Linked DNA regions of Homo sapiens: regions 1 and 3 are each reported to be linked to region 2. Evidence: microRNA targets listed by miRTarBase, many of them from high-throughput screens and not tested one by one. Region 2 holds a microRNA gene; each other region holds the end of a gene's coding sequence.

Region 1 (3,109 bases), not on the chromosome of region 2:
CAGTGTCGTACCAAACTGTGACATCAGCAATGGGGGCAGCCAGAAGCTCTTTCCTGCAGACACCAGTCCTTCAACGGCCACTAAAATTCATAGCCCTATACCTGACATGAGCAAATTTGCAACTGGAATCACGCCATTTGAATTTGAGAATATGGCAGAATCTACTGGAATGTACCTCAGGATAAGAAGCTTGTTAAAGAACTCACCCCGAAACCAGCAGAAAAACAAAAAGGCCTCTGAATAATGGCTTGACTTAGCACTGAGAGCTATTTAATAACTTTGTTCCGTTAATTAGTACTAATTAAGTGGATAGATAGAATGGTTTTCCTGTTTGTCCCTCCCATGTTTAAAAATCTATCCAAGGTTCATGTTCCAAAGTCAAGCCTATTTTAAAGAAAGACTGAGCTCACTAGTTCAGTATATTTTATTCTCACTGACAAAACTTGGGGGGAGATGTGAATATGACCTGGTTTAGAGAGGGTTTGTTAAGGTTTATACTATTTTTGGATTGTGACTATCCGTCGAGAGTGATGGTTTTTATCTGTCTTTTGTACATTGTTTTCCCTTTCTACATTTTGCTAATTATCCTGTATATAAGTTTAATATATCACTTTTTAAAAGAAAAAATTCTACCATTTTAAATTCATGTTTCAACTCCTACAACCAAATGAGAAAAATCAGGGATGAGCAGCTTTATCCCATTTGGGGTATTTTTGTAAGTGATTTACATGTGTCAATTTTAGTAATACTTTTACTTTTTTGTAACTTCATCCTTCATATATGCTTGCTATACAGGTATGTTCATCTTTGTGTACAGAGGTTTAATAAATTAGTTTTCATATACATAATCTAAGACTTTGAATACAAAAAAGTGATTCACAGGTAAAATCAGTGTATATAACCTTTTTTTTTTTTGAGACAAGGGTTTCACTCTTGTTGCCCAGGCTGGAGTGCAATGGCACAATCTCGGCTCACCGCAACCTCCGCCTCCCGAGTTTAAGCGATTCTCCTGCCTCAGCCTCCGGAGTAGCTGGGATTACAGGCATGTGCCACCACGCCCAGCTAACTTCGTATTTTTAGTAGAGATGGGGTTTCTCCACGTCGGGTCAGGCTGGTCTTGACCTCCTGACTTCAGGTGATCTGCCCGCCCAGCCTCCCAAAGTGCTGGGATTACAGGCGTAAGCCACCTCACCTGGCCGGTGCATATAACTTTTAAGTTTAAAAGTAAATTGTTGGCCAGGCGTGGTGGCTCATGCTTATAATCCTAGCACTTTGGGAGGCCAAGGAGGAAGGATCACCTGAGGTCAGGAGTTCGAGACCAGCCTGGCCAACATGGCAAAACCCCATCTCTACATAAATACAAAAATTAGCCAGGTGTGGTGGTACATGCCTGTAATCCCAGCTACTCGGGAGGCTGAGGCAGGAGAATCACTTGAACCTGGGAGTGGGAGGTTGCAGTGAGCCGAGGTCGCGCCATTGCACTCCAGCCTGGGCAACAAGAGCAAAACTCCATCTCAAAAAAAAAAAAAAAAAAAGGTAAATTGTAAAAATCAGTGGTAGCAAAACAAAAATAATGATAGGAATTGCAAGTTTGGGTGTTTTCAGTGGATTTCAGCCTTAAATATAGAAACAGCAGAATTTTTGAAAAGTAATTATTTTGAAAAATGAATGGCATGCAGCTAGCCTTTGTATAAAAATAATTTTCTAGATTTGAACCCTAATAGTTAAAAATTAAAAATTAAACATAAACATACTGCTTTTAATTGTCAGGTATATATATAAGATAGAGCTGAAACTGTGGTTTAGGTCTTTCTGTGGAATGCCATTACATCTTTATATTAGTCAAGTCCATGAAAATAAATGTTTAGATCGTCTTGAATTGTTAGTCTCAGGCAGTGTTATCCTGCTCTCAGGCCAACAGGGGGAGCAAAATAGAAACATTCCAGATATAGCTTTCATTTTTGAGAACTTGAGTAATCAGAATTTACTGTTCTGTAAAGAATAAAGGAAAGGAAAATTATAAAGAGAGAAATTTCTTTTTAAAGCCCTCACAGAATGTGCTAGAAATAGAATAAAATTTAAAATACTTTTGGCTTCTTTTCCTCAGCTTAAGTTCAAAATAAAAGCAATCCTTTACAGTTGTTTACATAGTGTTTTTAACCTGATCTCGCTCAGCATTTCTGTCAGGCAAATTATTATCACCACTTGGAAGTAAGGAAAGGGAGGCAGAGAGAGGTTAAAGGAACTTGTCGACATTCCAGAAGTGGTTCTTAAGGTGAGTGTTCAACTAAAGACTTGACTATTCCCTAAATCAGAGCAGTAGTTGTTTAAATGTCCCTTTAAGAAGTACTGCATTAGTAGAGTCACCTGTGAATACCAGAGGTCTCTTAATAGTTATCTCTTTGCCATTTACCAGACATCGTGTTAAGGTATTTTTGTGCATTACCCCATTTTCACCGTCACCACATTGGGTAGGCATTGTTAACCTCATTGTTGAGAGGAAATACACACAGCTAAATACACACATACTAAAACACACAGCTGATACACAACCTAGTAAATCTAAATCTAGATCTCTCTGACCCCCGTATCTGTGCTCTTAACTGCTGTACTGCCTCCTTGTCAAAAGCTCTACAAAAGCACTGATTCTTTTTTTTTTTTTTTTTTTTTTTTTGATACAGAGTCTTGCTCTGTTGCCGAGGCTGGAGTGCAGTGGCACAATCTTGGCTCACTGCAAGCTCCGCCTCCCGGGTTCAAGTGATTCTCCTGCCTCAGCCTCCCAAATAGCTGGGATTACAGTCATGTGCCACACACCCGGCTAATTTTGTATTTTTAGTAGAGACGGGGTTTCTTCATGTTGGTCAGGCTGGTCTCGAACTCCCGACCTCAGGTGATCTGCCCACCTCTTGCCTCCCACAGTGCTGGGATTATAAGTGTGAGCCACCGGGCGCCCAGCCAAAAGCACTGATTCTCAAAAAATGGGCTATTTCATTTGTTCAATTTTTGGGGGGTGTTGAGTGGGGGACAGGGTCTCGCTCTGTCACCCAGGCTGGAGTACAGTGGCATGATCACAGCTCACTACAGCCTCCACCTCCCAAGTTCAAGTGAT
Region 2 (3,268 bases):
GTTGTGGCCCACACTAACTCAGCACGTGCAGGAATATTAGGTGACAAAAAGTCAAGTCTCCTACACATATTCTTTGAGGCAAGAACCAAGTCCATCTTGTGTGATACCATATGCCCACTGCCCTGGCAGCACAGCGTTAGCATGTACTAAGTGCTCAATACTTGTGAAAGGGAGGTAGAGGGGAAGGAGAGGGAGGAGGAAGTGTGACTCACAGGCACTTTGTCTGTCTATGGGCAGAAAAAGGCCCCTCTGAGAGTCCTGGAATAGGTGCTGCACTGAGACAGCATGCACATTTAGGTGGCAAGGATACAAGGGGAAGCAGAGCAGCAGGCTCAGGATGTGCACACCACATATATTTGCACAGGTACCCATGTCTGTGGGAGGGAATAAAGAAAAGCCTGATTTCTGGCACCCTGAGCCCATGTATTCACAGGAAGTTGGATGACATGAGGATGCTTATTCTCCATGAGCCTGCTAGACAGTAAGGTCGGCATCTCTGACAGGTTAGTTTACTGTGGCATTCCCAAACAGCAGGAATTCAGTAAATTTGTTAAAGGGATGAATAAATGAATGGACCAAAAACATGCACACACAAATGACTGACTGAAAGAATGAACAAAGGAAAGAGAAGGGATGGACAGGCTCTGTCCTACACATAGGCAAGGCTCACAAGCTGGTATCCTTGCACAAGCCCATTGCACTGCTAAGACAGCACTTGTGCCTAGGCTGCAAGGCTAGGAGAGGGCAAGCAAAAATCAAAGTCCAGGCACCTGCACACCAGGCATGCATCTGAGTGTGTGTGGCAAGGAAACTTGCAGGCAAGTTTAGATAATAAGGCTCCTTCCTTTCAGCTTTGTACAGAAATGTTTCTACACTTACACATGTGTGTGTGCACATGCATGCACAATGTGAGCATGTGTATTCATAAGAGAATGAGAAGGCTCAATTCCTGACACACCTGTGTCTGTTGCCTAGGCCTGGGGAAGTCTAGGCACCTAATACCTCCACTAGATAGGAAGTCCCGGAGAGAGACACTGTCCATTATTTAGCAGGGTACTCCCAGCACAGCTCATGGCACATCAAAAGTGCGCAATAAACACGGGCTACTTGGATTGTTCAGCAGAAGATTCACGATGACAAGGCTCACCCTCCTGTAATCCATGCACACAGGAGGTGTTTTGAGAATTCACAACTCCGATATGCAATGGGTATGGGAGAAGGAGCAGTTCATTCTTCTGCACATGGGAGGGGGGTGGGGGAGGAGAGAGAAAGAAAGACAGAAAGAGAGAAAGAGAGAGAGAGGAGAGAGATTGATTGATTGATTGAGAGAGAGACAGATTGAGATTAAAGTGTCAGGTGCACGCCTGGAGAAGCAGTGCCAAGTCTATTCCCTAATAAAGTACTTGTTGTGTGTTCACTTAGCCTCATGTGCTCACTGAATGTGTGGTTATGGAGGAGGTGGAGACAGTAATGAAATGATGGCTTCCCTGCCACAGTCTGCATGGACTCGGCATTGGGAACGTACATGAGCAATGCAGGAGCTCATTCTCTTCCACCCTTCACCTGACTAGCTTATCACTGCCCCTAGCTAGCACTTATACTAAATCAGTGATTCTCAAACTTAAGTGAGCATCAGAATCAGTTGAGAGCCTTGGTAAAGTACAGATTTCCATGGTTTATGGTGTAGTAGGTCAGGGATGAGCCCAAGAATTGGCATTTTGAACAAGCTCCTAGGTGATACAGATGCTGCTGGCCCAGGGACCACACTGAGAACCACTGCTCTATACATAACTTAAAGAAATGAAATAATGGGACATAGAGGGGTGATGCAAAGACTCTACACTTTTAAACATGGATGAGATTCCCTCTCTGAATTTTTGTACAAGGCAATGGACTGGAATAGCATTTGTACCCAACTACGAAGAATGAAAGAGAGGGACAACCTGAATAGAAGGCTCGAGCATCTTCAAATCCATTGTGTTTGTGTGTATGTACAAAAGAAACAGCACTCTCTGGCTCACAGGTGATTTTCCTATGACCATACAAAGGTGAAGTGTCTTTTCTTCATATGCATGTGTGAGATGACTGACAAGTAGGGCCACTTTCCTTCAAGCTCTGGTGGCATAAGCAGCAAGTAGAAAGCCTATTGCCTTGCACACCAGACATGAGTGAGAAGATGCTGCTAATGACACTCATTATCCTATGCACACTGTGGCTGCAGCTCTGTGTAAGGGGAGACACACCTTTTGTAGTTCTCTAGCTGAGCACTGTTGGGGGGTTGGAGAGGGGATGATGGGAAGACTCACTCTCTGCTACATACGTATGCATGAACAATGTGGGCAACGGAAGTTCCTTCTCTTAAACATGCTCACTAGGCATGTGAGTATGAGTTCTGTGTCTTTCTTGACCACCCTGTCTCTCCATGTCTGGTGCATGACAGGAGCGCCACCCCTGCTTGTTAAAGGTGGGAATGAATGAAGGATGGGGATTATAAACAGGTGTTCTTCGCTCTATGCAGAAAAGGCTCAGCCGTGGAATGCTTGCCTGGGTGCACCGCATTGACACAGCACTTGCATCCAGGTACCAGGATTCAAGAGGGGGAACAGGACTGAAGGCCCAAGCAGCCATACAGAGTATGTGTGTGTGCACGTGTGCGTGTGTGCACATGTGCTCACATGGGTTTACAGGGAAGGCTCACCGCATATAGTGTGTTCATCTGTGACTGTACAGAAAAGTAATGAAAGGATCTCTCCTATACAGAGCAGCAAGAAGGAAAGTAGCAGTAAGAAGACTTCCCTCATTTAATCCCCATCTATAAGGGAGTTAAGGAAGCTCACTGGCTTGCACGCTGAGAATGGGAGAGAGGAGAGCACAACAGGCTCCATCTCCTACCCTTTCAGTAGGTGGGGTTCTCTGCATGCAGGGCCATGTCTCTGAGTGTGTCTGGTGTACAAGGATTGGGGACATTTGAGAATTTCACTTGAGCAGAACCTGCACATGCTTGTGCATGCAGACTGGGTAACAAGGAACATATAGATCTACTTCATTCTTTTGAACAGTGGCCTATTCATCCACAACATTTATGTATAGTGTGTTTATGAGTCCCTACCAGAATGTAGGGTAGCAACCTGTCCATTTTGATCCCTGCTATATCCTTGGTGATGAACATAATACCTGCTGTCTAATAGACACTTGAGTATCTGTGGAAGGAAGAGGAGGGAGAGTTGATGTGCAAAAGCTCTGTCCTTTTAAGTGTAGACAAGGCTTC
Region 3 (3,109 bases), not on the chromosome of region 2:
AGATCATAATTGGTCCAGCTGGGTACAGTGACTCAGCCTGTAATCCCAGCACCTTGGGAGGCTGAGGCGGGCGGATCATGAGGTCAAGAGTTCGAGACCATCCTAGCCAACATGGTGAAAACCCATCTCTACTAAAAATACAAAATTAGCTGGGCATGGTGGCGTGCACCTGTAATCCCAGCTACTCCGGAGGCTGAGGCAGGAGAATCACTTGAACCCCGGAGGCGGAAGTTGCAGTGAGCCAAGATCGCGCCACTGCACTGCACCCTGGCAACAGAGCAAGACTCCGTCTCAAAAAGAAAAAAAAAAGATGCTAATTGGTCCAATGTGAGGAATATTTTAAAAACAAGGGAACAAATTAAGTGCTTCACATATGTTTGGAGAATTGTATCTTAATACATTTTAATTTTCCTTTATCTTGCAGTGAACCCTGGAGGATGGGCACCAGCCTCAGTGTTAAGGGCAGTGGCAAAGCGAGAGTATCCTAAATTTCTAAAACGTTTTACTTCTTACGTCCAAGAAAAAACTGCAGGAAAGCCTATTTTGTTCTAGTATTAACAGGTACTAGAAGATATGTTTTATCTTTTTTTAACTTTATTTGACTAATATGACTGTCAATACTAAAATTTAGTTGTTGAAAGTATTTACTATGTTTTTTGATGTTCCCCTATAGAGTATTGTTTCGTTGGTTTTTGTTGTTGTCGTTGTTGTTGTTTTAAACAGGGTCTTGCTCTGTTTCCTAAGCTGAAGTGCAATGACACCATCACGGCTCACTGCAACCTCAACCTCTGGCCTCAAACAATCCTCTCATCTCAGCCTTCCCAGTAGCTGGGAGTCCCCACAGGCATGTGCCACCATGCTCAGCTAATTTTTTATTTTTTGTAGAGATAGGGGTCTTGCTATGTTACCCAAGCTGGTCTTGAACTCCTGGCCTCAGACAATCCTCCTGCCTCAGCCTCCCAAAGTGCTGGGATTACAGACATGAGCCACCGTGCCTGGCCTTGAAAATTGTAGTTTATAGCCTTTAAAACTTAATTCTTTTATTGTTTCCTTTTTCTTCTAATGCTTATGTAAAGAAATTTTGATATTATAGAACTGTAGAATTGTAGAAGTGCAAACTTCCTGTATTCTTTCCTTTCCCAGAAACTGTTATTTTTGTTGTATATTCCTCCAGATTTTTCTGTGTATGTACTGACATATTTTTGAATGTTAAAATGTTTATACTTACTATTATACAAAATTCTTGTTTTATAACCTTTTTTTCACTTAACAATGTATCTTGACTATCTTTCTTTATAAGACATGAGATGTGTAAAACATCTCATTCTTTTAACATCTGTTACATGCATGTTGCAGAATTTATTAACTAGTCCCATGTTAATGTCTGAGTTGGTTCCATATTTTTACTGTCAACCAGTACAGCACTGAACACCTTTATGCAAAGAGGTAGAATCTTTAACTTTATTTTGGTGTTGTTGAGACAAAGTTTCTCTCTTGCTGCCCAGGCTGGAGTGCAGTGGTGCAATCTTGGCTCACTGCAACCTCTGCCTCCCAGGTTCAAGCGATTCTCCTGCCTCAGCCTCCCGAGTAGCTGGGATTACAGGCGTCCATCACCACGCCCAGCCTATTTTTGTATTTTTAGTAGAGGCAGGGTTTCACCATGTTGGCCAGGCTGGTCTCGAACTCCTTACCTCAGGTGACCTGCTCTCCTGGGCCTCCCAAAATGCTGGGTTTACAGGCGTGAGCCACTGCACTCAGCCCAAAATCTTTAACTTTTTAAAGTAAGTGATACGTTAACATGATTAAAAGCCAAAAGTGGCCAGGTGCAGTGGGTCACACCTGTAATCCCAACACTTTTTGGGAGACTGAGGTGGGAGAATGGCTTGAGGCCAGGAGTTCAAGTCTAGCCTGGATAACATAGCAAGATTCCATCTTGACAAAAAACAATTAGGCGTGGTGGTATACATGTATAGTCCTAGGTACTTGGGAGGCTGAAGCAGGAAGATCGCTTTGTCTGGGAGTTTGAGGCTGCAGTGAGCTGTGATTACACGACTGCACTCCAGCCTGGACAGGTAATGTCTGTCAAAAAATAAATAAATAAAGTCAAAAGTATGAAAAAGTTATACAGTAAAATTTACCCTGTCTTGCATTCACCATATAGTATTAACATATGCTATTACTAGTTTCTTCTAGAAAGTTTTTAATGCTTGAATGAACAAATACAAGTGTATTTTCTACACAGATACACTTTTTTTGTTGTTAAAGAAGCAGCAGCATACTATAAACACTGTTCAACATCTTATATTTGCATTTATTTTATCTTGAAGGTCTCACATATTTGTAAGGAGCTTCCTCATTTTGATGGTTATACAGTATCCCATTGTATAGATGTACATAATTTATTTAATCAGTTCTGCATTGGCGAATATTACAGTTTCCAATTTCTGCCAGAGCAGTGTCATAATTGTATCCATATGTCATTTTGTACTTGCAAGTTTATATGTGGGAAAATTAATAGATGTGGTACTACTGGCCCTGCTAGGGGTTTGTGCATAATTTAGATACTACTTTTCATAGAGGTTATAGTAATTGACCATCTCAACAGCAATAATGAATTGGAGTCCCTGTGTCCCACAGTTTTTCATACAACGTGTAAAACAAAACTTTATAACTTTCCCAACTCATTAGGTGAAAAATACTCTCTCAGTGTAGTTTTAATTGTATTCCTCTTCTTATGACTGAGTTTAAGCCTGCTTTAGTCCATTGAGAATCTTTTGTATAGTACTATTTCTATAAATTCTATTTTGTAATAACATTTAAAATATTAGTAGATATTGCCAATTGTGATACACAAATGGTAAGCAATAACATGAATATTCTCTCATTCTCACCTACACTGGATGTTAAATAATTGACTGAGAAATGTATATTCTTGAGTCCTTTTCTTTAGCTAAAAATAATAGTCAATTATATAATGAAATAATTTTAAACAAGTCTGATTTCTAATGATGTTTATAGTATGTCTTTCTTTTAAAAAATGCAAAAGCTAAATTTATTGTCCGATACTAACTAATATCCCATACTAACATAAGGGATATTGCATTGATGT

What was found. The annotated mature microRNA hsa-miR-660-3p reads ACCUCCUGUGUGCAUGGAUUA and lies in region 2 at 1,155-1,175, opposite strand. An mRNA with a match to its seed (bases 2 to 7 or 8) in the 3' UTR can be bound and repressed. Matches are read on the target gene's strand: a 7mer-m8 pairs with bases 2 to 8, a 7mer-A1 pairs with bases 2 to 7 and ends in A, and an 8mer does both.
Region 1: the mRNA of ZCCHC8 is a reported target of hsa-miR-660-3p. Seed matches in the 3' UTR shown: 7mer-A1 at 1,284-1,290.
Region 3: miRTarBase lists CERT1 as a target of hsa-miR-660-3p. The part of its 3' UTR that is shown has no 7-base or 8-base seed match.

Annotation. Positions count from the first base shown.
Region 1 is chr12:122,470,632-122,473,740 of GRCh38, reverse strand. ZCCHC8 (zinc finger CCHC-type containing 8) reads left to right here. Exons shown (of 14, transcript NM_017612.5): 14 at 1-2,141. The coding sequence ends at 244. Among named protein-coding and RNA genes, the nearest start is that of ZCCHC8, 29 kb to the left of the region's middle.
Region 2 is chrX:50,011,199-50,014,466 of GRCh38, reverse strand. MIR660 (microRNA 660) reads right to left here and starts at 1,226; the gene lies at 1,130-1,226. The region is part of intron 3 of CLCN5 (chloride voltage-gated channel 5); the gene reads right to left.
Region 3 is chr5:75,376,789-75,379,897 of GRCh38, reverse strand. It overlaps CERT1 (ceramide transporter 1), which reads left to right. Exons shown (of 17, transcript NM_001379029.1): 17 at 425-2,123. The coding sequence ends at 552. Among named protein-coding and RNA genes, the nearest start is that of HMGCR, 41 kb to the right of the region's middle. RefSeq lists a silencer at 58-228.